Linked DNA regions of Homo sapiens: all the other regions are linked to region 1. Evidence: fine-mapped expression QTL. A gene starts in region 1. Each other region holds a variant in brackets. All regions are shown on one strand. Distances are from middle to middle.

Evidence for each region. PIP is the estimated chance that this variant, and not a neighbour inherited with it, causes the effect.
Region 2: its variant is fine-mapped to the expression of CD99L2 in nasal epithelium (TOPMed, PIP above 0.99).
Region 3: its variant is fine-mapped to the expression of CD99L2 in spleen (GTEx, PIP 0.98).
Region 4: its variant is fine-mapped to the expression of CD99L2 in lung (TOPMed, PIP above 0.99). The same link has a PIP of 0.9 or more in caudate and pituitary.
Region 5: its variant is fine-mapped to the expression of CD99L2 in tibial nerve (GTEx, PIP above 0.99).

What each region holds. Positions count from the first base shown.
Region 1 is chrX:150,895,334-150,901,345 of GRCh38, reverse strand. It overlaps CD99L2 (CD99 molecule like 2), which reads left to right and starts at 2,678. Exons shown (of 11, transcript NM_031462.4): 1 at 2,678-2,824. The coding sequence starts at 2,758. RefSeq lists a silencer at 2,394-3,003.
Region 2 is chrX:150,846,231-150,852,242 of GRCh38, reverse strand. All of the region lies in intron 1 of CD99L2 (CD99 molecule like 2), which reads left to right. Among named protein-coding and RNA genes, the nearest start is that of CD99L2, 49 kb to the left of the region's middle. The variant G/A (reference allele first, on the strand shown) is at 3,166.
Region 3 is chrX:150,955,264-150,961,275 of GRCh38, reverse strand. It overlaps the pseudogene RNU6-383P. Among named protein-coding and RNA genes, the nearest start is that of HMGB3, 25 kb to the left of the region's middle. The variant C/G (reference allele first, on the strand shown) is at 2,997.
Region 4 is chrX:150,766,402-150,772,413 of GRCh38, reverse strand. It overlaps CD99L2 (CD99 molecule like 2), which reads left to right. Exons shown (of 11, transcript NM_031462.4): 10 at 2,045-2,110; 11 at 3,313-6,012. The coding sequence ends at 3,380. Among named protein-coding and RNA genes, the nearest start is that of MTMR1, 76 kb to the right of the region's middle. RefSeq lists an enhancer at 1-548 and a silencer at 4,617-4,726. The variant G/A (reference allele first, on the strand shown) is at 3,459.
Region 5 is chrX:150,916,874-150,922,885 of GRCh38, reverse strand. It overlaps LINC02927 (long intergenic non-protein coding RNA 2927), which reads right to left and starts at 5,684. Exons shown (of 3, transcript NR_186570.1): 1 at 5,603-5,684; 2 at 2,950-3,117; 3 at 1,948-2,100. The variant T/C (reference allele first, on the strand shown) is at 2,573.

The sequences.
Region 1 (6,012 bases):
ATTAACCTAACTTACAAGAGACTGAGAGACAAACCAGGCCCAAGATAAGCTATTTTACAAAGGGAGAGGTATCTGGTAGGATAATCCATCTCGGACATTTGCAATATTTTGATTAAGGAACTATTTGTGAGTATCTTTTGGCCACAATGATAAACATTGTCCTTTTCTTTTGGTTCTTATTCCTGTGTCAGAGCAGGTCATCTATGTTCATTTTGCGCTTTAGAGGAGCACACTCTTAAGGTCCCATATCATCACCTGCTAATGTTCATCCTTGCCATGGTTCAATCTGCTAGAACGGAGGTCAGTAAACTTTTTCTGTAAGGGTTAGACAGTAAATATTTTAGGCTTTGTGTGCCCCATGGTCTCTATCACAACTGTTCAACTCCACTGTGGCAGCACAAAAGCCACCATAGGGAATACAAAAATCAATGGGCGTGGCTGTGTTCTCATAAACTTCATGAACCCTGAAATTTGAATGTTGTATCACTTTCTCATGTCATAACATTCTTTTGATTTTTTTCAACCATTTAAAAATGCAACCACTACTTTTAGCTGGAAGGCTGAACAAACAGGTGGGAGTAGGATTTAGCCCACGGGGTGTAGTTTGAGAACTATTCTTGAGCTAGAAGACAGTCTTATTGCATATGGCATTGTAGCACCTTTAGCAGCTAGAGTTCCAGTTGAGTGTGACTGTCCACTGCATATTGATTGACATGGCCTCAAACTTAAGAGGTTACATGCTTCTCACCTCCTCAGTGTAGATGAGTGTGTATGCATCAGGGTTTACCCATCAGATCCTGGAAGACTCCTAAAGACCAGAAAATCTACTGCCCTCCAGGTACAGATGGTACCACCAGGGCCTATGGAATGGCTCAGGGCACTTAGTAGCAAAGGTGGGGGCATGTCCACAGCCTGGAATAGACAGTAACCTCCTGACCTCACAGTGGCCACTATTTCCTTAGCCGTTACTAGATTAACCAGTAATGGTCCCTGCCCTCTGTCACTGTGTGCAGGCTGTCCACTTTTCACCACCTCATTTAATCCTTAGCACAACCTTGTTGGGTTTAGCCAGGATTTGTACCCGGTCTGGCTCTACAGCACACATTCTTAGCCATTCACCAGCTGGGGTTCCTAGTGGTACCCTCCCCCTTTGACACATGAGACTAGACCTGGCTAACTCCCCAACCTCAAGGAACCTCCATTTTGCTGCTTTTCCCTCGTTAATAGGTGATGATACATAAGGCATTGTGAGGAATAAAAATTAAGGGTAAAATGCCTGGAATATGCCATGTGTATAGTGTGTGTTCAATAACTACCAGCTATTTCTGTTAATTCTACAGCTAGAATGGAATAATGTTCCATTCATAGAGTAATTAATGCCCTGAGCCTGGGAAGATCCACTCCTCATATGCTGTTTTGTTTCTGCAGCCCTAAGATTCAGGGCAATGGATGTAAGCCACACGGGAGATTTCGGCTCCATCTCAGGGAGACCCCACACCCCACTGTTCCTTAGGGGTTGGTGGGAGCCACTGAGGGGGGTGCCTATGGCAGCGAGGGCTGGGTTGGGGGCACAGGAAAGCTGCCGAATGGATATTGAGGGGAGGTGGTAGTAGCCGCCCTCTAAGGAGGATGTGGCCCTGGGCAGCCGGTGCCGCATAATGGCAGGGACAGGCTCACGCTACCACTCCGGAGAGCAGTAGCGCTTCCTCTTTGTCTTCGAGAGCCGGTTGCAGCTGGGGCTCTTCTAGGGAGCGTTCCCATCAACTGCTGCAGCGGGCATTTTGCTGGTCGGCACAGTATCGTATCGGAATCTGATTTCTTCGGGTCTGGGAGACGGACTCCGTTTGCGGGGGTTCATGGGAAAGGACTGCAGCGCGTTTGTCGGTCATTAAGCACGTTTTTGAGATCGACTCTGCAGATATGAACTTGCACTTTCAGCGCATTCATCAAAGCCTCGGGAGAGCTGACCCAGTCCCTACCCCCAGTCTCCCGAGCCCGCGGCGCTTCGGCTCCGGGACGCCCCCATCCTCCCCTGTCGCCCACCCGGGCGCCCCCGGCCTCGTTTTCTCGAGACGTGTCACTGCTTGTTGACCGCAGCCAGTCACGAAAACGGTCCTTTTCTTCAGTCTCCGGCCAGGGTTTCACTCCTGCAGGGAACAGCGGGTGGGGACAGAGTGCGGGGCTCCGTGCTGGACGGTGTCTGGAGGGGCCCCAAGGGAACAACCCTTCACCGGGAGAACACCAAGGCCAGAAGGGGAAGAGCCCTTCTCAAGGTCACCCGGGAGGAAATCGGCGCCCACCGGCGCTGCCGCCTCCCGCTCCCCGGCACTGGTGACTCACTGCTCCAGGTCCGCGGGGCCACCTCCGAGACTTCGGTCTCGAGGACCGAGGTGGGACAGGGTCTGCGGACCGCGCGCTGCCGCTGGACCCAGCCCAACCCAACCCAGGCCTCCCCACCCACCGGGTGCCCGCAGGCCACGCCCCTCGCCCGGAGCCCCGCCTCCAGAACGCGGCCCCGCCCCCGATACTGCAGCCTCGCCCCGCCCCCCGGCCTAACCCCAGCCCAGGCGCCCTCAGGCGCCGGCTCTCTAGCGCGCCCGACCTCCATCTTCCCGGGGCCGCGCCGCGCGCGCGCGCGGGCTTTGGGCGGGACCCTGCAGAGGCGGCGGGGCTCCTCCTCCCGCTCCTCCTCGGCCTCCCCTTCGGGCGCTCTCGCGCTAACTGTGCTCCTCCGGGGCCCTCCGCCTGCTCCCAGCCATGGTGGCCTGGCGCTCGGCGTTCCTTGTCTGCCTCGCTTTCTCCTTGGCCACCCTGGTCCAGCGAGGTAAGGCGGGCGGGGGGCGCGCGGGGACCGCGCGGGGACCCCGCCTTGTGGGCCCAGGGGTCGCTCTGCGCATGAGCGGCACGGTCCCCGCCTCTCGGGCCTGCGGTGGCTGCCACCGGCCGGCCCGGCTGTGCGAGGCGGAGCGGCGGGGGTCCGAGCCCCGGGCCCGTGGGGGTTGACTCCGCCGCGGTCGGAGTAGCCGGAGAGGAGGGGTGGGTCCCCTCCTGACGCTGGGCTGGAAACAGCGGGATGGGCCCCCTAAAATCCTGAACGAGCAGGTGTACCACTGGTGACAACAGCTGTCCCCAAGAGTTTACCTTTGAGAAAACCTTGAAGAGAGCAGTCATTTTCGAAATTTGCTGCGAGGCCACCGACAGCAGAAGCACCTGGGGAACTTCCTAGGTGGATTCCTAGCCCCTTTCATCGGGATCACAGCGGGCATGGGCTGTGGGGGGGGGGGGGGGGGGTCAGCGAGGCGTAGGTCTAACCAGCTCTCTAGGTGCTTCTGCCGTCCGCTTCAGTTTTTGAGACTTTGGTCATGTTTTGCCAAGGAGCAGGAGAGAGAAATCCCGCTGAATCAAGGAAGCACGTTTCTTAGACCCTCTGCTACTCAAAATGTGGTCCAGGGCCCAGCCGCATAGGCATCACCTGGGAGCTTGTAAGAACTGCAGCATCTCACGCCCCGCCCCCGACCTACTGAGTCTGATTCTGCATTTCAACTAGATCCGCGGGTGATTCTCTGGCACATTCAAGTTTGAGAAGCATCTTAGTAGAATAAATGCAGTCTGTGGTTAAAAATAGGGTCTTAAACATGTACCAACAGAATCTTCTTACACTTATTTATATCCTATGTCCCCATCAGAAAAAGGGATTAAGGGAAACACTGTAATTGAACGTGAATTATGCTCCAAGCTTCCTGACAATAGAAGCGAACCCAGCTGGTGGAAAATATGTGAGCTCAGGAAACACACACACACACACACACACACACACACTTTGTCCTAGTACTGAGTTCTAGTAAGATTTATGTCACATAAAGGAACACTGGAAAACAGTGGATGGTACTAGCCAAGCCACTTTTGCAAAAGATGCAGAAATGTTTTTCATGTGGGCAACCCACCTGGAGTTGATTCACGAAGAGCCATTTAACATTCTGCAGAGGTGCCAGGCTCTGTTCTAGGAACTGATGATGCGGTAGTGAACAAAATTGAGACTGTCTTCATGGAGCTTACATCCTGGTCCGGGCAGAAAACAAGCCCAACATTGAAATCTATATATATTGTCAGTGCTATGGAGAAAAATAAAGGAAGTTACAGGGGTAAAGAGTTGTTGAATTTTCTTTTTCATTTTCCCTTTGGGATAAAATTTTTATTTTGTTTACAATGCATTTGTAGGAAAATGTATGATCATTTGATTGACTTGCATCTAATGACATGGAAATCTTGAAAGTAGAAGCACAAAAAAAGTTAGAAAAATGATACTCCCTTCAAAGCTGTCTTCTGAAAGTCTTCAACATGGTGTGCCCGTTGAGAAGGTGGGGAATAGAAATGATTGGGTCTCAGATTTGCACGTTACAATTGTTGATTTAAGAGGTGGTAGAGGAGACAGAAACAGTACATCTGTTTTATAGATGAGGAAACAGAGGCACAGAGAGGTGAAGTAACTTGCCTTAGGTCACACAGCGATTGCCAGAATTATGATTTGATGCAAGGCTTGTCTGACTGCGCAGTCACTGCCTTTAAGCCCTAGGCATATGCCCTTGCACCTGGAGGTACCCCACTTCGACTACTTAGGGACCATGGGAAAATGAGTTCCCCGAACTTGTTTGATCATCCATATGATGCCTGACAATCACAAAGGTGTTTTGAGGGGACCAGGCTTAGATCTACAGCCTTGCTACCAGCTACCATCTCCTGAGTTCTTCCTGTGTGCCAGGCACTTCACATATATTGCTTTAAATTGCCTCGACAATTTTGCAGGCTAGATATTATCACTGGCTTTCAGATGAGGGGGCCCTGGTCATATAGCTCAGAAGACATAGAGCCAGGATTCAACCCAGATAAGACTGCTACCCAGTTATCTTTTATTGTTTAAATTATTTTTAATTAATTAATTAATTTTTTTGAGACGGAGTCTAGCTCTGTTGCTCAGGCTGGAGTGCAGTGGCCTGATCTCGGCTCACCGCAACCTTCGCCTCCTGGGTTCAAGCAATTCTCCTGCCTCAGGCTCCCAAGTAGCTGGGACTACAGGCATGCGCCACCATGCCCGGCTAATTTTTGTATTTTTAGTAGAGATGGGGTTTCACTGTGTTGGCCAGGCTGGTCTCGAACTCCTGACCTCGTGATCCGCCCGCCTCGGCCTCCCAAAGTTCTGGGATTACAGGCGTGAGCCACCACGCCCAGCTTATTGTTTAAATTAATTAACTGAAACCAGAAGCAGCTTTGGTTTCAAGATAAGGGCCCAGTTTTCTGGATCTTTTTTTTTTTTTTTTTTTTGGAAACAGAGTCTTGCTATGTCGCCCAGACTAGAGTGCAGTGGCGCGATCTCGGCTCACTACAAGCTCCACCTCCTGGGTTCACGCCATTCTCCTGCGTCAACCTCCTGAGTAGCTGGGACTACAGGCGCCAGCCACCACACCGGCTAACTTTTTGTATTTTTAGTACAGACAGAGTTTCACCATGTTAGCCAGGATGGTCTCTATCCCGTGACCTCATGATCCACCTGCCTCGGCCTCCCAAAGTGCTGGGATTACAGGTGTGAGCCACCGTGCCCAGCCAACAGTTTTCTGGATCTTTTGTCCAAAATAAGATAATACGATTTTTGCATTGGTGGTCTTCTCTGGGATCCTGGTAGTCTCAGAGCTGCTGCGTCAAAATGACAAACACAAAGCAAGTGCCTCAGTTAGGCACCAGTTGGCTCTTCTTGGGCCCTGGAGTGGCATTTTGGGTAGGCCTGCTGAGAGCCACTTTATTCTTGGTCCTGGTCCTCAGTAGTGGGATGTGGCTGAGTAACCCTGGCAGACCTCAGAAAGCACACAGAAGCAACTCTGCATAATCTGAGAAATCCTTCCAGGCTCTAGCAAGTAGCAAGTAGAGGCTGGCTTTAGGCTCCCAGGAGTTTAAAGGGCGGTTAACAAGTTATCTTTGTTCTAATTACAGAGGGCTTTTCAGTCTGCTGTGTATTTTACT
Region 2 (6,012 bases), 49 kb after region 1:
TCCACACAACAGAGCGAACTTCTAAAAATGTTGTTTTGGCCAAATGCACTTCTGCAACTCCAGAGTTGGCCCCTTTTAGTGTAAGTTCACCACCCTGGCACACCTTCCTTAACTACCCAGCATAAAGTGGATTTTCACTCTGGAGTAATGATGTGGAGAAGAGTTCTTTCATCCAAGCAGTAGTGAACAATTTAAATGCTTGAAACAGTAAAACAGATGATGGTTATTGGCTGTTGTGGTCAGTAGACTAATGTTCCCTCCCTGCTCAGAGGTCCACATCCTAATCTCTGGGACCTGTGAATATGTGACGTTACATGGCAAACGGGACTTTCAAATAGGGCTAAGTTATGGATCTTAAGATGGGAAATTGTCCTGGATTATCCAAGTGGGCCCAATGTGATCAAAGGGGGCCTGATATGTCAAAGAGGGAGGTAGATGTGATTATAGAAGCAGGGTTTGGAGTGATATACTTTGAAAATGGAGAAAGAGCCATGAGCTAAGTAAGGAATGCAGGTGACCTCCAGAAGCTGGCAAAGGCAAGGAAATGGATTGGAAGCTTCAGAAGGAACACAGCCTGCTGGTGCCCCGGTTTTAACCCAGGGCCACCCATTTTAGACTTCTGATCTCTGGAACTGCAAGGTCATAAAATTGTCCTGTTTTGAGCCACTATGTGGGAATTTGTTATAGCACCAATAGAAAATACAGCTGTCTCATCATAGCACTTTACTTTTAGAGCACCTTAGGGGCAGGCATGTGTGGGGGAATCAGACCTGTCCAGCTGCATGACCCCGTGCTGCTGCATCTATCTGAGCCTCAGCTCCTCATTGGTGAAAGAGGCTGCTCATCGGCACCATGCCAGCTCACAAACCACTGAAGTGTTGATGCCATGTGTCTGACATGGCAGCTGCTCCTTGCTAGGTCCTCAATAAGTGGATGTTGTCCTATATTATCTAATCCCATCCCTTCCTTCTACAGAATGGGAAAAGGGAGGAAGAAGATGGGAGCAATTTGCCCAAGTTCGAAGGCACAGAATCAAGTGAAGGATTCAGATGTCTTGACTTGGAGGGGAGGGCTTTCACATTTGGTTAGAAAATACTCATGGTAGGCTGGGTGCGGTGGCTCACACCTATAATCCTAGCACTTTGGGAGGCCGAGGCAGGCAGATTACCTGAGGTCAGGAGTTCAAGACTAGCCTGGCCAACATGGTGAAACCCTGTCTCTACTAAAAATACAAAAAATTAGCCGCGTGCCGTGGCACGTGCCTGTAATCCCAGCTTCTTGGGAGGCTGAGGCAGGAGAATCACTTGAACCCGGGAGGCAGAGGTTGCGGTGAGCTGAGATCGTGCCACTGCACTTCTGTCTGGGTGACAGAGCGAGACTTCATCTCAAAAAACAAAAAAAAAAGAAAGAAAAAAAAGTACTCCTGGTTAGAGAGTTTCTTCAGTCCTGGATTGGCTGTGATACAAGAAACACCTCACTTCTTAGGCAGCATCTGTACAATGTTGTTGCACCTGGGGCTCAACCCATCAGTGGCCTGTGCAAGTAGTTGAGTTGCAACTAGCATATTGAATGAGATAAAATGGAATAGGAAATATTAGTCCTTCACACAAATAAGATCATCCTTTGTTGCAACATTTGTTTCTATGGAGTATCACTTTGTTGTACTGTGTTTCTATCACTTTGTTGCAACATTTATCTCTGTGAGAATCACTTTGTTGCAACATGGGTAGCCCTCTGGTGTAATATTTGTTTCTATGTGCACGTCCGCTGGTGCCTACATGTTCTAGGTAGGGATGGGAAATTTGGGATCCCTGTCAGGGGCATGTGTTCTGTGAAACTGGGGGATAAACGTGGTCTACTAAGTTGCTGGGCTCTGAGTGGTGAGCATGGCCACTGCTGAGCTGGCCTTAATGGTGAGGTGCCTGCTGCCAAGCCTGGCTTGGTTCATGTCTTAAGGGACACATGTGGGCTGGAATGTGGCTTAGAAAGTAGGCAAGCTAGATTCCACTTTAGGACATACAGGAGACTTTCTTTGGGCTCCTCCTGCTTCCCTCTCCAACCTGATCAGGCATGTTCAACAATCTAGACTTGCAGGATATTTGTCATTTCTAGTTTTTTGTTTTGTTTTGTTGTTTTAATTGGCTTGTTGTGTCCTCAGAACATCTCTATTCTTGGCATACCTTCCCCACTGGGCTTGTAAACAGGCACAAATACAGAGTGGAAAAGGGGAAAGGTCAGCTGAATAGCTGTAATTTTATTTTGCGTAGTATTAAATGCTTATTTAATTTATATTATATAGAACTGGCTTAGGGATTTAGTTGGCCAGATCAAGCAGATGTGGGCCTAGTAATGTTCCTTGAAGTTGTCATACATCCTATCTCCCATTTTCTACAGATGCAGGAATCAGTGGGTTCTTACTCACTTGGAAGATTTGTGGTGTGGAATGAGCCAGACTGATTGCCTGCTTCCATGACAAGCTGGCTTCAGAAGGTTATGGAGCAGGATGTACTGATATACAAGGGCTAGCTCATTCTGTGTTTTGTTTTGTATAGTTTCAATTTGAGACAGAGTCTACCTCTGTCTCCCAGGCTGGAGCGCAGTGGTGCGGTCATGGCTCACTGCAGCCTCAACCTCCTGGGCTCAAGCAATCCTCCCACCTCAGCCTGCTGAGTAGCTGGGACTACAGGTGTATGCCACCACACTTGGCTAATTTTAAAAAACTTTTTGTAGAGATGGAGTCTCACCCTGTCACCCTGGCTGGCTCAAGTAATCCTCCTGCCTCAGCCTCCCAAGTAGCTGGGACTACAGGCATGTACTACCATACCCAGCTAATTTTTAATTTTTTAAAAATTTTATAGGGACAGGGTCTCACTATGTTGCTCAGGCTGGTCTCAAACTCCTGGGCTCAAGCAATCATCCTGCCTTGGCCTCCCAATGTGCTGAGATTACAGTCATGAGCCACCGTGCCTGGCCTCATTCTGTTTTTGACGCTGCTCACCAGATTGCTTAGTCAGTGTTTACAAAGCACCACAGAAGTGCCAACGGCTGTTGGGGCTTCATCGCCTAACTGTGTACACAGGTGTTGAATTTGAGTGTGATTGTTGATAGAGGCCACAGTCTGCCATTAGGTATATTTGGGAAGGGAATTTGAGCAAGCTGTTTCCC[G/A]GCAGTATGACGCACATGGACAAGTTCATGGAGAAAAGTTGCACAAGTCAAAGGGAGGAAGTGGTTGAAGTGGAGGTTGTGGTGGGGAGACAGGATCTCCTGGTGCGGGTAGCCAGTGACCCTTAGCACGGGATCCACATGTCTAAAGGAGCATACGACAGCAGGGGACAAACTTATTCTTTGTAGTGCCAGGGTAATCTACTGGCCAGTTTTGGGGTCAACACAAAAAACTTTCCAAAAACGTGACTCTTCCAACGAATGAATGTACTTCCAAAGCACATGCCTGGGTCCCCAGCCCAGTGAATTCTGAGGGGGAGGAGGTTTCTGAGGTTGGTCAGCTCATCCTCCCTGGCTGAGAACCTCTATTATACACTGGAGATTACTTTGCTGCATTTTAGGGATGGTCAATTAGATGATATTTCAGATTCTGTCCAAAGTTAACATGCCTTGAGATAATTGGCTTTGTCTTTCTGAATTTTGATTTTTAAAAAGCATCACTTGCTGTTTTTTTTTTTTTTTTTAAATTGTGGAAAAAGAACCCACATAATACTTACCATCTTAGATGATTTCTAAGTGTATTGTTAGTGGTGTTAAGGGTGTTCACATTGTTGTACAACCAATCTCCATAACTTTTTTATCTTGCAAAACTGAACCTCTAATCATTAAGCAATTTCCCATCTCCCACTCTCCCCAGCCCCTGGCAGTCATCATTCTACCATCTATCTCTGTGAATTTGACTACTCTAGGGACCTCATAAAATGGGAATATAGTATTTGCCTTCTTGTGATTGACTTATTACACTTAGCATAATGTTTTCAAGGTTCACCCATATTGTTAACCACTTGCCGTTATTTTATTTCTTCTTTTCTGCATTTTCTAAGATTTTCACAGTGGACACACATTATTTGAAAACAAATAATATAATTTATGTAATACTGTGAGAGGTATAGTACAAGGGGGGGGGGGCCTGCAGGCCATAGTTAGGCATATGGAGCTTATATTCAGTGTAGTGAGGAGGCCTTTGGGAGTTTTGAGCAGGGAAGTGATGTGCCTTGAAGTTTGTTTAAAAAGGAAAAAGGAGGACTCCCTGCCTGCTGTGTGGAGAATGGATTGGATGGAGCATAGACCTGGAAGGAGCAGGAGGATGGTGCTTGTGGCTGTCCAGGGGAAAGATGATCGCTGCCTGGCTTGGTAGTGGCAGTGGAAAAGTGGTGGGCTTTGTGCATGTGCTGGGGGTGGAATTGACAGTTCTTGGTGACAGGGTGGCTATGGAGAATGAAGGAGAAGATGTCGGGACAGTGTACAGCTTTCTGGCTTGGACAATGCAGTGGGTGGCTGTGCCATTCAGTGAAACAAACAGGGAACTCAGGAAAAGGGTCTAGGTTGGAGAGCCAGGGCTTGGCATTTAGTTTTGTGGATTCTGAGTGGGAGCTGGCTGTGAGATACTGAGGAGTGATTTGAGAGGGAGCAAGCAGATACAGCAAGGATAGATAGTCATTTTATGAGTTTGGTTATGAAGGGGTGGGAGAGAAAGCAGTATCAAGATGGGGATGTACAGTCAAAAGAGGGTTTTCTAGTTAAAATGGGAGAGATTTGAGCATGTTTAAAAATAGATGGAATGATACTTCCCAAATTGAACTACAGATTCAACACAATCCCTATCAGAATCCCAGCTGTCTTTTTGCAGAAATTGACAAGCTGATCCTAAAATTCATACAGAAATCCAAGGGACCCAAAATAGCCAAACAAGCTTGAAAAACAGGCACAAAGTTGGTAGACTCACACTTCCCCATTTCAAAACTTACTACAACACAACAGTAGTTAAGACTGGGTATTACTAGCACAAGGATAGCTGGACCAGGATTACTAGCACAAGGGAAGACAGAGTCCAATTCAGGACATGCTTCCTTGGAGGTGCTATGGAAATCTCCCCTGGGTAGCAGGACCTGCAGGATTGGAATTGAGGACAAAGGTCTGGGTTGGGGATACAGGGTAGGAGGTGCCTCGTGCTCAGCGCCTTTCTCCCTCTGCATTGGCCTGGCCAGATGGCAAGGCTGAAAATCTTGATGATTTCTGAGGTCCTGTTCCACTCTGCCTGGCTCTGATTTGGAAATGTTCATACATGCAACACCAACTAGACATAGATTCTTACCTGACTTAAGAAAGTACACAGGATCCATTGGTGTTTATGCTGCCTTCAGGGGAAGGAAATACCATGTGCATTTGTTATTAGTCAACAGACTGATTTGGGGTGGCCTTGTCCAAATCACTTACATTCTTGTGCCTCAGTTTCCCAAACTTATGTCGTATCAGTAGAATCTAAAGGCTTATCAAGCACTGGGTGAGTTTAGATTAGAGTGTGGCTTTTTTCTCTCTTCATCCATTAAGCTTTTGAACATTTTAATGATTCTCTTATAAGCCATTTACTCATGCATATTTATTGAAGGCCTTCTACTTACTAGTGGATTCTACTTAATACCAAATTTAATAATAATATTAGCTAACATTTGAGGGATTCCTATGTCACATATTGTGCTAAATGCTTTATATATAATGATTATTTAATCCTCACATTAACTCACTGCAGTAGGGTCTCTTGTTATCTCCATTTTATAGATGAGGAAACTGAGGTATAGCGCTGTTAAGTCCCTTGCGCAAGGTGTCTCTCCTGCTAAGTGGCAGAGCTGGTGTCTGCATCCTGCCTGTTTGGCTCCAAAGCTGGTCACCAGTGCCGATATCCTCATGTGTTGCCCTGGAACAGCCTTTGACCAGAGTTTGGAAACCTTGGCCCCAATTGTGTGTGTGACACCAGCAGTGTCACCTTTGACAAACATGTAGTATCTTTTA
Region 3 (6,012 bases), 60 kb before region 1:
TGTTTTTAGACAGAGTCTCACTCTGTTGTCCAGGCTGGAGTGCAGTGGTGTGATCTCGGCTCACTGCGACCTCCGCCTCCCAGGTTTGAGCAATTCTCTGCCTCAGCCTCCCGAGTACCTGGGATTACCAGCACCTGCCACCACGCCCAGCTAATTTTTTTGTTTTTAGTGGAGACAGGGGTTTCACCATGTTGGCCAGGCTGGTCTTGAACTCCTGACCTCATGATCCACCCACCTTGACCTCCCAAAGTGCTGGGATTATAAGCGTGAGCTACCGTACCCGGTCTTCTTTTAGGTTCTTTAAGACATAAGAATGTATAGAAAGCTACTGAGATAGGAATTATTTGGGGGAAAGGGGATCTTAGAACCTGATTTTTGAAAGGGCCTGTGGTAGGCTACAAACTGGTCCCCCAGTAGAGATCCACATTCTAATCACCAAAACCTGTAAGTGTTAACTTACTTGTTTTGTTTCCTCTCTCTCTTATTACCCACAATAATGTTAATTTAAATGGCAAAAATAAATAAATAAATAAAATGAGGTTTATGTACATGTGATCATGTTTAGGATTTTGAGATGGGGACACTATTCTGGATTATCTGGGTAGGTCCTACATGCAACCACGTATATCCTTATGAGGGAGGCAGAGAAAGATTTGATGCACAGATGAGAAGGTGATGTGAAGCTGGAGCAGAGACAGATTTGAAGATGCTGGTCTTAAAGATCAGAGTGATGCATCCTTAAGCCAAGAAATGCAGGAAGTTGCCAGAAGCTGGAAGAGACAAGGAATGGATTCTCCCTTTGAGCTTCCAGAGGAAACAGGGCCCTGCCAGCACCTTGGTTTCAACCCAGAGATACTGATTTTAGACTTCCGGCCTCCAGAACCGTGAAAGGCTAAATATTCCTGTTGTTCAAAGCCCCCTAGTTTGTAGTACTTTGTTATGGCAGCCCAGGAAACTAACACAGAGTCCTTAGAGTTCATCTAGTCCAAGGTATGGGCTTTTTCCTTTGTTTGTTTGTTTGTTTGTTTTTGAGACAGGCTCTCCCTCTGTTGCCCAGGCTGAAGTACAGTGATGCAATCATGGCTCACTGCAGCCTCGACCTCCCAGGCTGAAGCAATCCTCCCACCTCAGCCTCCCAAGTAGCTGGGACCACAGTTGGGCACCACCGTGCCCAGCTAATTTTGTTTTGTTTTTAGTAAAGACAGGGTCCCAGTATGCTACCCAGGCTGGTCTCAAACTCCTGGGCTCAAGCAATCCTCCTCGGCCTCCCAAAGTGTTGGGATTACAGGCATGAACCACCATGCTCAGTCTCTAATGATTTTCTTAGCACCGAAATCAATTACTTTTCAAATGAAATCATTGCCTATAGAAACAACAGATGCAAACAGAGGAGTGATGATTGAAAAAGGAGGTCCAGATCCCCACCTGCTAAATCCCCTCAATGGTGGCTCCTGAAGCACCTCCCAGGACCTTCCACCAACAGAGTGTGAAAACACTTGTCTAGTTTCAACCTCATTGTACAGATGAATAACTTGAGCCTCTAGGGGCTGAGTGATTGGCTGAAGGCCTCCCTTAGCAGGCAGCAAGGAACACTTATGGGGAGGAAAACAAGGCAAGTTACTCCTGCCTGCTCTCTCATCTTCCCTTGCCTGGTTTGGCCAAATCCCTGTCTCCCAAGCAAACAACTAAGAATACGTTGCTGTCTCTATATGAATTTTGTTTTTAGCACTAGTTCCAGTTTTGAACAGGGACTGCCAGCTGTGTCAAATATGGCGAGGCTCAAATGAAGTATTTGCTCATGAAGAGCACAGACCTGGAGCAGGCTGTTAAGGCATCTTCGGAGATGAAAAATTACTGCCTGATTCCTCACCTGTATTTGCAAATTGAGTCTCGTGGGTATGACTGCAACAGTGGGTGTGAGGAGGTGGGCAGGAATGAATAGCAAAGTTAACCAGCTGTCGGTGAACCCGGAAATATGAATCCCTAAGTGGATCAAGAAGAGCCCAGATAAGAGCACAGGTGAATGCCACATCACATTTTTCTTGTTGTTGTTAGATTTTAAAACATTTAAGGTCAGTTCTGCTAAAAGGCCTTTGTGGAGGATAAAGAAAAGGTTATAATAAAATATTACTCCCCTTTTCCCTCTGGCCTTGGTACTAACAGACAAGACATTAAAAGTCAGGTTCTCTTTCCTTCCCAAGCATAGTCAAGATAGGATGGCATTTTCTCCTTCCTTCCTTCCTTCCTTCCTTCCTTCCTTCCTTCCTTCCTTTCTTTTTTTGATGGAGTCTCACTCTGTCGCCCAGGCTGGAGTGCAGTGGCGTGATCTCGGCTCACTGCAACCTCCACCTCCCGGGTTCAAACCATTCTCGTGCCTCAGCCTTCCGGGTAGCTGGGATTACAGGCGTGTGCCACCATGCCTGGCTAATTTTTGTATTTTTAGTGGAGATGGGGTTTCACTATGTTGGCCAGGCTGGTCTTGAACTCCTGACCTCAAATAATCCTCCCGCCTTGGCCTCCCAAAGTGCTGGAATTACAGACGTGAGCCACCGTACATGGTAGGACGGCATTTTCAAAGGGAACTTTACAAGGAACTATGAGGAACCCAATGGGGCATTAAACAAACAAGATCCAAACCCTCTCCAGGGGTTAAAAATGACTGACCGTTTACCAAGCTGATTCCGAATTCGCGACCGTTTAGATGCCTATTTCCAGGGCCACTGGCCTCATCCCTGCTACTTGACCAAGTGGCACTGAGAGAAGTATTGCATCCGGAAAGAGGAAGGCCAGGGTGTGTTCCAAGAATGAATCAAATAATGGGAAGCCTAACTAAGACCAGTGGATGAGCCAACAATGCCAGCTGGCTGCTCAAGGCTGCTGGGAGGGAACACTCAGTGCAGCAGATGGAACACAACTGGCAGGCAACAGCAAATGGCATTAGTGTGGCTTCCTTTGTTCCTTGGTGTTGCTAGGGAGGATGTCCTCTCTCCATTCTG[C/G]AGGCCACATGGTTCCACCCTCCCCAAACAGTAGGGAAGGATGAAGGTCCCTAGCTGCCACCCACTGCTGCTCCAACTGAAGGAACAATGTGTCTTTTTAATTTATTTATTATTTATTTATTTATATTTGTTTATTTATTTTTTGAGACAGGCGTGGCTCTGTCGCCCACACTGGAGTGCAGTGGCACCATCATGGCTCACTGTAGCCTCGACCTCCCAGGTTCAAGAGATCCTCCCACCTCAGCCTCCTGGGTAGCTGGGACTTCAGGCATGTATTGCCATGCCCGGATTTTTTTTTTTTTTTTCCCCGAGACGGAGTCTTGCTCTGTCGCCTAGGCTGGAGTGCAATGGCACGATCTCTGCTCACTGCAACCTCCGCCTCCCAGGTTCAAGCAATTCTCCTGTCTCAGCCTCTGGAGTAGCTGGGACTATAGTCGCGCTCCACCACGCCCAGCTAATTTTGAGTAGAAATGAGGTTTCGCGATCTTGACCAGGCTGGTCTCGAACTCCTGACCTCAGGTGATCCACCTGCGTCACCCTCCCAAAGTGCTGGGATTACAGGTGTGAGCCACCACGCCCGGTCTATGCCCAGATAATTAATTTTTTTTTTTTTTTTTTGTAGAGACAAGTTGTTACCTGCTGTGTTGCCCAGGCTGGGGGACCATGTGTCTTTATGCAAAACACACCAGGCACTTGCAGAGGTGGCCAGCTTTCCCCAGAAAGGACCTCTCACAGACTTTTTCTTTCCATTTGTTTGTTTGTTTGTTTGTTTGTTTGGCTTTCAGGTAATGTTGCTTCTCAATTCATGATCTCACCATCATTGGTCTGTGAGATTCTTCTCTGGCTGAATCAATCTATCCATCTCTCCAGTCTTTTTAATTACTGTTTTCCACTCTAATGCTCCTCCCCTCAGTGGCAACCACTCAAGTGTGTGCTCTGTCAAACTGTGTAGAGGGGTGTGTGTGTGTGTGTGTGTGTGTGTGTGTGTGTGTGTGTTTTCAGTAAACATAAGTGGTAGTGGCCTGGAGAGTGTGTTCAGTCTCTTACTGGGTGCTTTTCCACTGAGCCCTGTGTGTGTTAACTGTCCATGCTGCTGTGTGTTCCTGAGTTGCTTGTAACCACTCATTTGCTTCTATTTTTCCCCAGTGGTGGACACCTGGATTGCCTCCAATTCTGTCCTAGCACAGGCTCTGTACAATAAACATCCTTGCATGGGTCCCTATAGCAGGCTCAAGATGGACCCCAAAGGTATCAGGTCCTAATGCTTGGAGTCTGTGAATGTTGCCTTATATGGAAAAAGGGTCTTTGCGGATGTGATCGTGTTGAGGATTTTGAGATGGGGAGATTATCCTGGGTTATCAGGGTGGGCTGGAAAGGAAGTCACATGTTGTATTGGTTTTCTGTGGTTGCTGTAACAAAGTACTGTACCACAAATTTGGTGGCTTAAGACAATAGAAATCTACTCTCTCACTGTTCTGGAGGCCAGAAGTCTGAAATCAAGGTGTCAGGAGGGCCACAGTGCCTCCGAATCCCCTCCTTGCCTCTTCCGGATTCTAGTGGACTCAGGTGTTCCTTGGTTTGTGGCAGCATCACTCCAACCTCTGCCTCGTCTTCACATGGTCTTCCCTGTCTCTCTGTCCTTTTGTCCTCTTATAAGGACAGCAGAAATTGGATTAAGGGCCCCTCCTACTCCAGTATGACCTCATCTTAACAAATTACATCTTCAAAGACCCTATTTCCAAATAAGGTCACTTTCTGAGGTTCTAAGTGAATGTGAATTTGGGGGGACATTATTCAGCCCACTACTCTTATATCCTTATAAAAGAGAAGCAGAGGTAGATTTGACACTCACACAGAGAAGGCAGAGTGAAGAGGGAGCGGAGAGATTCGAAGATGCTGGCCTTGAACATCAAAGCGATGCAGCCGCAGACCAGGGAAGGCTGGCAGCCACCAGAAGCTGGAAGAAGCAAGGAGTGGAGACCCCCCAGAACCTCCTGAGAGAGCATAGCCCTGCTGACATCTGGGGTTCGGCCAAAGGATACTGATTTTGGACCTCTTGACTCCAGAAGTATCAGAGAATACATTTCTGTTGTTTTGAGCCATTGAGTTTGTGATATTTTGTTACAGCAGCCACAAGATACTCAGTCCCTTTGTGGGCCTGCAGGAGAATTTCTTGAGGTTATACCCAAGAATGGGCTTACTGGGACAGTGTGGGCACAGACAAGATTTGGCTAAATGCTACTAGGTGGCTCTCCAAAGCGCCTGCATCCATCTAGCAGGACTCCCAGCAGCGGCACACAATGGTTCCTCCTTCTGCTTATTCTAGCCAACACTTGGCATCATACAGCTGATTTTTGCCAATCTGACATGTGTGTATCCTATGTCATTGTTGTCATTTCCATTTCTCCGATTACTAATGAATCTGGGATCCCAGCATCTCTTCACATACTTACTTGCCAGCCTTTTCAGTTTCTTCTCCTAAGAATTGCCTATGCATATGCTTTGCTCATTTTCCTGTTGGGTCTTTTTCTTGTTGTTTTGCAGAATGTTCTTGCATATTTTATCCATTAATCTCCTGTTGCTTTTAAACAGCAAATATCTTCTCCCCATCTGTTGTCTGTCTGTTAATTCTATCTGTGCTGTCCTTCATGGAAAGGAATCCTTAATTTTGCTGTAATCAAACCTAATTTGAGTGCTCATTTCAGCAACACATATACTAAAGTTGGAACTATATAGATAAGATTAGCATGGCCCCTGCACAAGTTCACGAAGTGTTCCATATAATTAAAACAAATAAAATACAATAACAAATCTAATTCAAGGCTGACAACAGAAGGGTGGATGGGTCAGGGACTATTGTGCAAACAGAGTAAGTGCTACCGTGTGTGTGTGTGTGTGTGTGTGTGTGTGTGTGTGTGTGTGTGTGTTGTGCATGCGTGCAACCTCTAACTGAATGTCAACTCCCAGGAATGGGTCTATTGCCCAAACTTTAGGCTTAACTGCTCCCCTGCTCCCT
Region 4 (6,012 bases), 130 kb after region 1:
TCCTGACCTAGCTCCTCTCGCCCTGCAGGCCTGGAGCAGCCTCTCCCAGCCTGTGGTCCTACAGCGCCCCCTGCTGACCTCACCTGGTGCTCATGGGGCGGGATTGGGCCGGTTGGTTTCTGAGTGTGCGACTCCCAGCTCGCCTTGCCCCCTCCGTGATCAGGAGTCTCTGGACCGTCCATTCCGTGGCGGGGCTGCGTGTACATCATGTCCCTGGCACCTGGCCCGGGCCAGAATCAGGAGGAGTCCCGCAGACGTTTGTGGGGTGGCTGAAAACACTGAGAAGCTGGGGGTTGGGCCTCCTGTCCCCACTCTTTCCCCTGAGTCTCAGCCACTGCCACATGGAGATGGCGGTAGAGGGGACCGGGGTGCAGAACACCAAGCTCTGGGGAGACAGCAGGAGGTGGCTGCGAGGAAGGCCTGCCCCCACCACTGTGGCCCTCAGGTGCTCTCGGCCTCTGCTGCTGCCAAAAGGCCCATGCTGGGGACCCTTGGCTTCCCTTGCCTTTGCCCTCAGTGTGGAAAGCCCGCATGTTTGCTGTCAGGAGCGCTCTTACTCCAGGGATTCTAAGCTTTGTGTCTTGCCTTCAGATGCAGCAGCAGGTCAAGGTAACGCTGCTTTGCCTTCCTCACTTTCCTTTTGCTTCAGCCTTGATGCTTCCTCATTCGCCCCCTGCTCTGGCGCTTCCTTGCCGCTCTTCTCCCTCCTGCTTCCCTGGCACTCACCGACGTGGCTGTAACCAGGACCATCTTTAGCTTACCCTGATGCGTGTGAGAGGATGCCACCTGCCAGACACTCTGTCCCCAGGCTGGATGTGGCAGGGGTGGGGGGAGAGTTGAGGTGCCATGGTGAGGACTCAGGTGCCCACTGGTGGTCATGCCTGGGGAGCACATAGAGGGCCACCCACAGGAAGGAGACGATCCAGCGCCCACTGGGTTGGCAGCTAGCAGTGATCACGAGGCTCAGGGTGTGTCTCCTGGCCCCCACCTGTCAGCTGGGAAGGTGCACCTGGGGCAGCTTCCACTGCACTCATCACCTGCCCCGCTCTGCGTGGGGCCGGCCACACCTGCCAAAGAGCAACGCCCGCATTTGCCACAGGCCCATTTGGCTCCCACCTCAAGCCCAGCAGCCACCGGGGCAGGCAGGTGGTGGGCATTCTTGTTTAGGCAAGGAGCCTGTAGCCCAGGACGATGGCTTGACTTGCACTGGTGCCTGGTCGGTCGGTCGGTCGGTTGGAACCATGCCCCAGTTTTCCCACAGACCCGGGGCTGAAGGGTTCCAGTCCCTGTGCTACGCAGGGATGAGACACAGACTCTTGACTCTCTGCAAGCAGCAGCAGGGGTGGGGTCCACTCTAAGAACTTGAACACTGGCCCTTGCTGGCGGGAGGGAATGCTTGGTACAGTCCCCGAATCCCTCTTGTAACAGGTGTAGAGAAAGCCTAGATAACTAACTAGACTGAAGCAGCTGCTGGTGGGCTGGCCCCTCCAAGCTCAGGTGGACACAGCGGTTATTCCTGCTGCTGGGAGGAGCAGTTGGCCTCCGCGCGGGTGTTGCTGGGAGGCTGCATGTTGGCAGGAGGCTTTGCTGCATCTACATGCTGAGCCCCACTCAGCCATCCGCCCCTCCCTGCCCTGCATCCATCAATCACTCATAGCGATTGGCTCCCTGGCCCCCGGGCCGCACACGCACACGGACCTGTGGATGGTGCTGAGCCCTGCCATCGGGCGCCCCCTCCACTGGGCGGAGCTGCCGTCTTGACGCGGTGGCAGCTGCCCTATGAGGATGGAGTGCCGGAAGCCTTCGCTGCATGTCGTTGTTATTTCTGAGGACGATGATGAGAACTCCTGGGCAGTGAATTCTGGGACGAACAGTCTTCATCCGGATAAGGATGTTCAGGTGGCTCAGGGTGCAGGGTTTTGAGTTCCCCAGGGGAGCTGTGCTGCTTTTTTAGCTGCAGAGGACTTGGTCAGGAGTTCTCAGTCACGATTGGGGACCCTTAGGTCCTGTGCGCATCACTAACTCTGCCCTTTTCCCTTTGCAGAGGGTCTCAACGCAGACTACGTGAAGGGAGAGAACCTGGAAGCCGTGGTATGTGAGGAACCCCAAGGTGAGAACTTTGTACTCACTGTCCCTTGCTGACGCTTTCCTAGTTGGTCCCAGCACTGAGCAGAACTGTGCTAGAGAAGCAGGGAAGCACAGAGGCGTCTGCTTCTAGAATGTCCGGCCAGAGCAAAAGCCTGCCCTGATGAGCCTGCCTCCCAGTTTCAGGAGCCCAAAGATGCTGGGGTGACAGCCAGGGCCATCTGCTGCCATGCCTGTGACTTCTGGGCATTGCGGCTGCTCGGCCCCTGCCCTTGATTCGTCCGTCCGAGCCAGAGCCCCAGGCACCTCTGCTCCCCATCAGCGAATACAATTACATCCTGAACAGAGCCATGGGGAAGCTTTTCACCTAGACCTAGAACTTTTCCCTTTGCAAATTGCCACAGGCAAGAGGGAACTTGGGTAAAACCCAGACCCTATTGTCAACACCTGTGCCCCTCCCTCCCCCTTCTGTGGTCATCAAGCACTTTCTGGATTCAGGAGCTGTTGGCAATTTGAGGTCGCATAAGTTCAGGCCACAGGCCTAGAGTGCCCAACTGCTCGAGGCAGATATGACCTGTGCCCACGGGATGCCAATGAGGAGGTCCGGAAAGGCTTGCTGGGGTCGGGGAGCAGCCGAGGCCTGGTGGCGCAGGCAGGGAGACTAGGACAGCTCAGGCGAGTGTTGCCAGTGGAACTACAGTGCAGCAGCCGTGGGGACTGGGCCTGGGAGACCAGGAGGGGCTCAGCCTGTGTGGTGTGTACTGGGAGCCAGGTGCCCTACAATGCTGCTGAAGACGGGTGGCAGTGCTGCACCAAATGAACTAAAATAGGCCTGGGTTCAGATGTGGAAAAATGGATTCCGCTGTCGCATCCACTGTCATGAGCTTTGCCACGGTTAGCCACCACGAGGCCAGCATCTGTGTGGGCAGGTGCTAGGTTGAGCCCTTTGTTTAAAATAACCCTTCCAGCAGCGCTGGCAGGAACACGCTCATTTTTTAGGTGAGGAGATGGAGGCTGAGCTGTTTCCAGAGCCTGTCCAGCTTTCTCTTTCTCTCCCCTTGACCGGCCCAAAACTGCTCCCAGGCTCAGGAGGGAAGGTTGCTAAGCGGCCCCCCAGGGGATACAAAGGGAAACCCAGTTCTGTTCCCAGCACGGGCTTGCTGCTGTATTTGCTTCTTCTGTGCAAGACAGAGCAGAATTCCTTCTGACGGCCTCTTTTTCCCCTAGTGAAATACTCCACGTTGCACACGCAGTCTGCAGAGCCGCCGCCGCCGCCCGAACCAGCCCGGATCTGAGGGCCCTGTCCAGCTGCAGGCATGCACAATGGTGCCACCGCTTGTCACCCGGCTCCCCCCACCCCTTCATTTGGACCC[G/A]CAGCTGCTGTGCTGCTCTGTGCCATCGGCTCCTTGTTGGTCTGAGTTTCCCGGATGAGCTCTGGGTGTTTGTGAGTTTGGTTTCTCTGCCCTGCCCCAAGCGTGCTGAGACTTGGTGCCGAAATTCAAGAGCCAGCTCTGATAGAAAGCCAGCACCAGCCTCGGGAGCTGCTGAGCCACCAACTCCCAAAGCCAGCCTGCCTCCAGCTTTACTGAGCACAGGATGCGGGGGCCAAGATGATGCTGAGGCCTGATGACATTTATGCTTAGGGGACAAGAGTTTGAACTCAAGGGACTGTGACCCCTGCACACTGGAGTGGCTCATTGTGGCAGGTTTCTGCCAATAGACAGCCCCTGACAGTGGCCTCAAGGAGCTGCAGGTGGGGGGCTCAGCCTGCACCCACTTGGAGCCCCTGCAAGGAGCGAACCGGTCAGCACCAAGTAACACCACACACACGCAGCACCCAGGATGATGGTTTCACTTCAGTCTTCCCCATCCCAGGTTTTATGTTGCTGGGCTTCCGGAGAGCCGGTCCAAGCGGAGGCTTTCAGTGATTTAAGTACAAACATGCATCTCGTGATAGTCCTGCCTTGAGAGCTTAGGAATCTTCCGGATAAGTATGAAGCAATTCGTAGGCCTGTTTCCCATCTGATTCCATAGGGGGCTGGGTGTGGCCTTCGGGTTGACATGAGAAAGGTCTTTAGCAATCATTTCTGCACCGGAGATGAGTTTTATCCTGTGTTGGGGAGAGGTGCTCACCCTCCACCCTGTGTCCCTGTTTTGGTAGCAAGAGTGACCGATGTCAAGAACGAGCATCAAAGCCAGAATCCTGCTTGTTTGCTTAAAAATGTAATTGGGGGCGGCGGGGGAGGAGAGGGGAAAGAGACATTCGCTTGGTTTAGTGAAACGCAGGTGACTTTGTAGCTCTGTGGTCAGCCTACTTGTCTGCTCTGAGGGAGAGTGCGTGGGGAGCCATGCTCACCGTGGCAAACACAGGAACCCCATGACTCGCCCCTCACCTGGCGTGGAGCTGCCTGGTTTGGGCTGGAGCAGAGCTGGTTTCCTGGAATGTTCCTTTGGCCCACATATGGTTCTGTCCCGGTGAGCTCTGTTGTCAGAGGCTCACGGGACAGAACCACATGCTAGGGTCTAGGGCCCCTGTCTACTGATAGTCAGTTTGCTGTGTCAGAAAGCACTTCTGAAAGCAGATATGAGTCACCAGACAGGCAGGATCTTACAAAACTCACGGGCCTCTTTGGTCTGCATGATGGCCCCATGCGTTTCATAGGCTGTCCACTGAGCGGGATTGTCTGCTGAGTGGGATGAGCCAACTCCAGTTTCTTAAGGAAACCACTGGAATCTGCAGCCCCCACATGCATCTGTCTAACGCATGCCTCGTGTTCGTTTTGCAAACATGCCTGTGGTGGAGGGTGGTCAGTTGTAGCCCTGTGCGTCTCAAGGCTGCCTTGTGAGGCCATTCCCAGTGCGTGCCCTTGAGCTCCTTACCACCCCTTTTCCTGCTCGGCCCTTTAATCCCTGACAGACCTGGACTGTGTGGCTGAAGGGGGACCTGCAGCACTGCAGAAATGCCTCTGCGTGGTGCCATGAAGGAAAGAAACCTTGGCCTGGTCTCGAGAAGCTTCCCATGCTTCAGGAAGTTAGTAAGGGTGGGGTGGCTTGCAGGATTGGCCTGTTTCCAGGGCCTCCCACACTCATTGGCCAGATTGTGAACTTTGTCAGGCTTGTCCCTCCCTGATACCAAGTATGTCGAGAACCGATGGCCCCACCCTCTGGCTGGTGCTGGGCCGGAGGTGGCTATGGAGGATTTTGGCATGCGTGGCCTGTCGCCACCTGGACAGCGTGACCTCAGGGGTTGTCCACTTTACCTTTATGGTGAGGCCTGTCGGATGGCTAAGTCCTTGAAACCCTAGAGCTGTGACGTAGAATATGTGCTGTCTGTGAGACCGTGTTCCCAGGAGCACTGACTGCAGTTGAGAGAGACCCATTTTGCTCTCCCTTACCGCCCCCCGCCCCGGGTGCTTTCTGCACAAAGCCTAGAGCCTGGCACTCAAGCCCACCGGTGGCAGCTCCTAGTGACTGGACATGCCTGGAAGACCCCTCAGCCTTCTGTTTGCAGAACGTTCATTTCAGGAGCTTCTCCTTCCCACAGACATCTTACACTTGCTCGACACTGCCACCTGCAGAAGCCTGGCGGGCTCTGGTCACCATGTGTCTATCTGAAGGTTGCACTGGCCAGCATGGGCCTGTCCCAAGCGAGAGGGGAGACACAGTGGACTGAAAGGACTGGTTGAAAGTGGCCAATCTCTATCAGCTTAATTTGGCAGAGAAAATTTGTAACAACTCTGAGCACATGCTGGGTGAAGTCACAGCTCAAGGAAAGATAAAGCTGGGCGGAAGGAGGTGTGCGTGGCTTCTGGGGTGGGACCCAGAGGGGAGGCTCTGGGACAGGGGCTGGGGTTCAGTGCCAGGGCCCTGAGGAAGAAATGGGGACTGATCTCAAAATTCCAGAATTCCCTGTACATCTGTTCACGT
Region 5 (6,012 bases), 22 kb before region 1:
GCTGGCCTTGAACTCCTGAGCTTAAGCAATCTGCCCACCTCAGCCTCTCAAAGTGCTGTGATTACAGGCGTGAGCCATTGTGCCCAGCCAATCATTTTAAAATTGAGATAAAACTCACATAATATAAAATTTAACATTTTAATCCATTCTACAACATGAATGAACTTTGTTTTTTGTTTTTGTTTTTATTTTATTTTGTTTTTAAGACAGGGTCTTGGAGTCAGGTGTGGTGGCTCACGCCTGTAATCCCAGCACGGTGGGAGGCTGAGGCGGGCAGGTCTCGAAGTCAAGAGATCGAGAGCATCCTGGCCAACATGGTGAAACCCCATCTCTACTAAAAATACAAAAATTAGCTGGGTGTGGTGGTGTGCACTTGTAGTCACAGCTACTCGGGAGGCTGAGGCAGGAGAATCGCTTGAACCCGGGAGGCGGAGGTTGCAGTGAGCCGAGATCATGCCACTGCACTTCAGCCTGGCAACAGAGTGAGACTCCCTCTTAAAAAAAGAAAAAAAAAGACAGGGTCTTGCTCTGTCACCCATGCTGGAGTACAGTGGTGCCATCTCTGCTCACTGTAGCCTTGACGTCCCAGGTTGAAGCAATCCCCCCATCTCAGCCTCCCAAGTAGGTGGGACTACAGGTGCATGCCATCATATCCGGGTAATTTTTTGTCCATTTGTTTGTTTTTGTAGAGATGAGATTTCGCCATATTGCCCAGTCTGGTCTCAAACTCCTGAGCTCAAGTGATCCACTTGCCTCAGCCTCCTAAAGTGCTGGGGTTACAGGCGTGACCCACCACACTTGGCCGACAAATGAACTTTGAAAACATTATGCTAAGTGAAATAAACCGGACACAAAAGGCCAAATATTGTTTGATTCCACTTATATAAAGTACCTAGAATAGTCAAAATCATTGAGAGCAAATAGATTAGAAATCTCCAGTGGGGTCTGGGGGCGGTGACTCACGCCTGTAATCCCAGCACTTTTTTTTTTTGGGAGGCCAAGGCGGGCAGCTTGCCTGAGGTCAGGAGTTCGAGACCAGCCTGGCCAACATGGCAAAAACCCATCTCTACTAAAAATACAAAAATTAGCTGGGTGTGATGGCGCATACCTGTAATCCCAGCTACTCGGGAGGCTGAGGCAGGAGAATTGCTTGAACCCTGGAGGCAGAGGTTGCAGTGAGCTGAGGTTGCACTGCTGCACTCCAACCTGGGTGACAGACTGAGATGCCATCTCAAAACAAAACAAAACAAAACAAATCTCCAGGGGCTGGGGGAAGGGAGGGAGTAATAGCAAGTATTTAATGGGTATGGAGTTGCAGTTTAGGATGATGAGAAAGTTCTGGAGATGGATGGTGGTGACAGTTGCACAATATTGTAAATGTACTTAATGTCAATGAATTGCATACTTAATAGTGGTCAAAATAATAACTTTTATGATATATATAGTGATAATAAAATGTTTAAAAAAGACATTTACCACTTAACCATTTTAAAATGTACTACCTGTGGTTTCTAGTACATTCACAGAGTTGGGCAATCACCATTATAAAATCAATTTTAGAATATTTTCTTCACCCTACAAGAAACCCTGCACCCATTAAGGAGTCATTCTTCATCCCTCTCCCCCCAGCCCCTGGAAACCATTCATCTGCTTTCTGTCTCTGTGGATTTGCCCATTCTGTACATTTCATATAAATGGAATCATACAACATGTGTCTGATTATGTGTCCTATCTTCTGTGTCTGGCATTTTCCATTTAGCCTAATGTTTTCAAGGTCCATCCATGTTTGAGCACAGATCAGTATTTCATTTCTTTTAATGGCTGAATAATATTCCATTGTATGACTGGATCACATTTTGTTTATCCATCCATTGCTTGATGGACATTTGGTTTGCTCCCACTTTGGCTATTATGAATGATGCTGCTATGATCATTTGTGTACAAGCATTCCTGTGAACATGAGTTTTTATTTCTCTTGGGTATATATCTAGAAATGGAATTTGCTGGCTCACATAGTAACTATGTTTATCAAGACGCAACTTGCAGTAGAATCCAGCGCATCAACTCTGAGTCTCTGAGCTGTTGGAGGACATAGACAGCCTAGAAAACAGAAGGGCAAAGGCAATTGAAAGAATCTCCTTTTTAGCTCATACTTCCATTTTTCTCCCACCCCAAAGTGGGTCTGTTATTGAGTCACAAAATTGACAAGTTTGAGTTTGAGCTCCCCTCCTGAGCTGTGAAATCAACCCAAGAGTAGGGTTTCAGTTGGCAGAGGGGTGGTCAACTGGTACATCTGGAGTTGACTTTGTCTATTATCTTTCTAATCATCCCTTTAGCCTAGAAAGCCTTTGCCTTTAGAGCTGTTGGGCCAAAATCTAAAATCAGCTTGTGAAAGTGCTGTCTCGCAGCCTCCTGGTATGTGAGAATTTGTCCATACTTGATACACAAATAACTATTTTGCTATTGACTGTTCCTCAGCCTGATCTATTCAAATGAATCTCTTTGAAGACATGCCACCTACAGATCACGGTATTTCAACAACATTTGAACTCTTTCCAAGTATAATCTGTAA[T/C]AATTTCTTCATTTTCACAATATTTGCCCTTTGAAACAGGCCCTGAGCTTGTGCGTTTAAAGGGGGGAGTGGGATTTAGAGAATGTCAAGCAAGCGAAATGGTTTAGGTTGGTTCATTCTGTTCTGTGCCCATGAATAGCGCTTGATTCATGGACCGCAAGTGGAATGTTGAACAGGACAGGCTCGTCATGGGGTACAGCAGAATTAGACTCAGCATACTCTCCAGACTTTCTCTCTCTGACCAGATGGGCAAGCCAAGCCTCAAATAAGCACAAATCCTCTGATAACAGTTTATACTTCCAAACAGCCCACAGGAAATGGGACCCTTGATAAGAGAAGCAGCTTCACTTGTAAATTACAAGCATTCACTTACTAACATTTAAACTGACAATTATCACAGCTTCAAATGCTGGGCTCCATTGGAAAGCAAGTCAAGTTGTTCATCTGTTGGGTTGGTGGCTGATCCCTTCTGTGGTTTGCTTACAAGTGAAAACCCTGCTGCTGGTTGGAACCCATTCTGCTTGATTTGGACTTGACAGAAGTACCTGGTACAAAGGAAAAGACCTTTTAGCAGGGAGAACAGGGTGGCAGGTGTGGCCCCCAGGGGGCCACTGAAAAGCCACAGCAGGGTAAGTCACACTGCCTGCAATGCTGCAATGGCACTGAGCCCATGTGAAGGCACAAGGCCTGGTTTATGTTGCCACTGCCTTCCTGTGTGACCTTGGACAAGTTGTTCCCCATTTCTGGGCCTCAGTCCCTTCCTCTTTAAACATGGGGGCTGAAGCAGATTACACTGAGGGAGGCCCCTGCTCTATTGTGCTGTGCTTGGAAAGCCTCTCATGTAGCTCTCAATGCAGATCTGATGAAGAACCTGCAAGGACATGGATTACATTTCATTTTCTTTTTCTTGTTTCTTTTCTTTTTTTTTTTCTTTGAGACAGAGTCTCGCTCTATTGCCCAGGCTTGAGTACAGTGGCGCTATCTCAGCTCACTGCAACCTCCGCCTCCTGGGTTCAAGTGATTCTCTTGCCTCAGCCTCTTGAGTAGCTGGAATTACAGGTGCCCGCCACCAAACCCGGCTAATTTTGTTTTGTATTTTTAGCAGAGAAGGGGTTTCCCTGTGTTCGTCAGACTGGTCTCGAACTCCTGACCTCGTGATCCGCCCACCTCAGCCTCCCAAAGTGCTGGCATTACAGGCGTGAGCCACCGCGGCCGGCAGCATTTCATTTTCAAGAGATGAAGGGGTGTGTTGAGAAATGCACTTTACACATGTACCCTAAAACTTAAAGTATAATAATAATAAATTTTAAAAAAAAAGAGAGAAATGCACTTTAGAATTGTGTTGTCTGGAAAGGATAGGCTAGGCCCCAATTCAGCAGCTAGACCCTGGCCTTGATCTATATAGAATCTTAGAAATCGTTTCAGTGTGTATGCTTTCCGCATTCATCCTGTTTCTAAAGACACGATGACTCCTTTTCTTGACAACTAAAAGCTCCTGGCATGAGCTCTCTCAGTCTCACTCTCTGAGCTCTGGATCACAGGGTGAGTGTGGAAAGGTGGGCAGAAAAATCTGTGTATGATTCCGTTCAGCCATGGGTGGGACGTGGCAGAGCCTCAGAGGTGTGTCTCAAATGTGGGGCTAACCAAAGGACCTGCCAAACCTCTTTTTGCTTTTCTCTAGCAGTTTTGGAACCCAGACTTTCCATATTATCCTGGCTCAACCCTCATGCGGGAGGAGAGTCATGGGGCCTCTAGGTTGAAAAGGACCTCAAAGGGAGACTAGGCTGGATATCTTGAAGAATGGGAACTCCCTTCCTACAGAGGCAGCTCCTCCATCTTGAGGTTGTTCTGCCCCTTAGGAAGTTCCCGAATCCAGCCAGGCAGGCATGGTGGCTCATGCCTCTAATCCCAGCACTTTGGAAGGCCAAGGCGGGGAGGATCACTTGAGGCCAGCAGTTAGAGACCAGCCTGGGCAACATAGTAAGACTCATCTCTACAAAAATAAAAATTAAAAAAATTAGCTGGGTGGGGTGGCATGTATCTATCGTTCTAGCTACTTGGGGGGCTAAGGCAGGAGGATTACCTGAGTCCGAAAGTTTGTGTCTACAGTGAGCTATGATCATACCACTACACTCCAGCCTGGGTGACAGGGTGAGACTCTGTCTCTTTTAAAACAAGAAAGTTCCAGAGTCCATCACCCTGTAGCTTTTCCCCTTTATCCTTATTTTCATAAGCTGAGGCCACAGAATACAGATCAAATTCCCCAGGAGCTCCCTCCAGGAGTCTCCCTCATCACTCCTTTCCTTTTTACCCCTTACAGTCATCTTTTTCTCCGGTCCAAACACTCACCAAGATTATTCATTGTATGAAAATTCCGACTTCCATAGGTCAGGTGCAGTGGCTCACACCTGTAATCCTAGCACTTTGGGAGGCCAAGGCGGGCAGATTGCTAGAGGTCAGGAGTTCAAGACCAGCCTGGCCAACATGATGAAACCACATCTCTACTAAAAACGCAAAAATTAACTGGACGTGGTGGTGCATGCCTGTAGTCCCAGTTACTCGGGAGGCTGAGGCAGGAAAATCGCTTGAACCTGGGTGGCAGAGGTTGCAGTGAGCCAAGATCACACCACTGCAGTCCGGCCTGGGTGACAGAGAGAGACTCTATCTCAAAAAAAAAAAAAAAAAGAAAAAGAAAGAAAAGAAAAGAAAAGAAAATTCTAACTTCCCTTTAACATCCTGATCACTGGCTCCTGAAGCAAATCCAGCCTGTTAATGTCTCTCAGAGAGGCTACTGGTACCCAGAACATGACATGCATCCAGGCACTGTGAGCTGACCAGGAGATGAGTGGGATATCACCTCTGTCCGTCTAGAGCAGAATAAGCTCCTCAGAGGGTATAGGGATAAAAGATGTACAGAACTTTCTGTTGTGATTCAGGAAGCATCTCTAACTCTCTTAGCCCGTTTTCTGTTGTTTATAACAGAATACCCCAAACTGGGTAATTTATAAGGAAAAGGAATTTATTTCTTACAGTTGTGGAGGCTGAAACGTCCAAGGTTGAGGGGCTGCATCTGGTCAGGGACTTCTTGCCGGCGGGGATTCTGCAGAGTACTGAGGTGGCAAAGGACATCACATGTCGAGGGGGCTGAGCATGCTCACTCAGGTCTCTCTTCCTTTTCTTATAAAGCCACCAGTTCCACTCCTGTGATAACCCATTAATCCATTAAACCATGAATGGATTAGTCCACTCATGAGGGCAGAGCCCTCATGACACAATCATCTCTTAAAGGCCCCACCTCTCAATGCTGCCACACTGGGGATTATATTTCAACACGGGTTTTGGAGAGTAAAAGTCCTGAAACCATAGTAATAACCCAGATGTCTCTTATTGTGCCTCCTTCTCTTCCCACCTACTTAGCCAACATAATAACAGTTAAAACA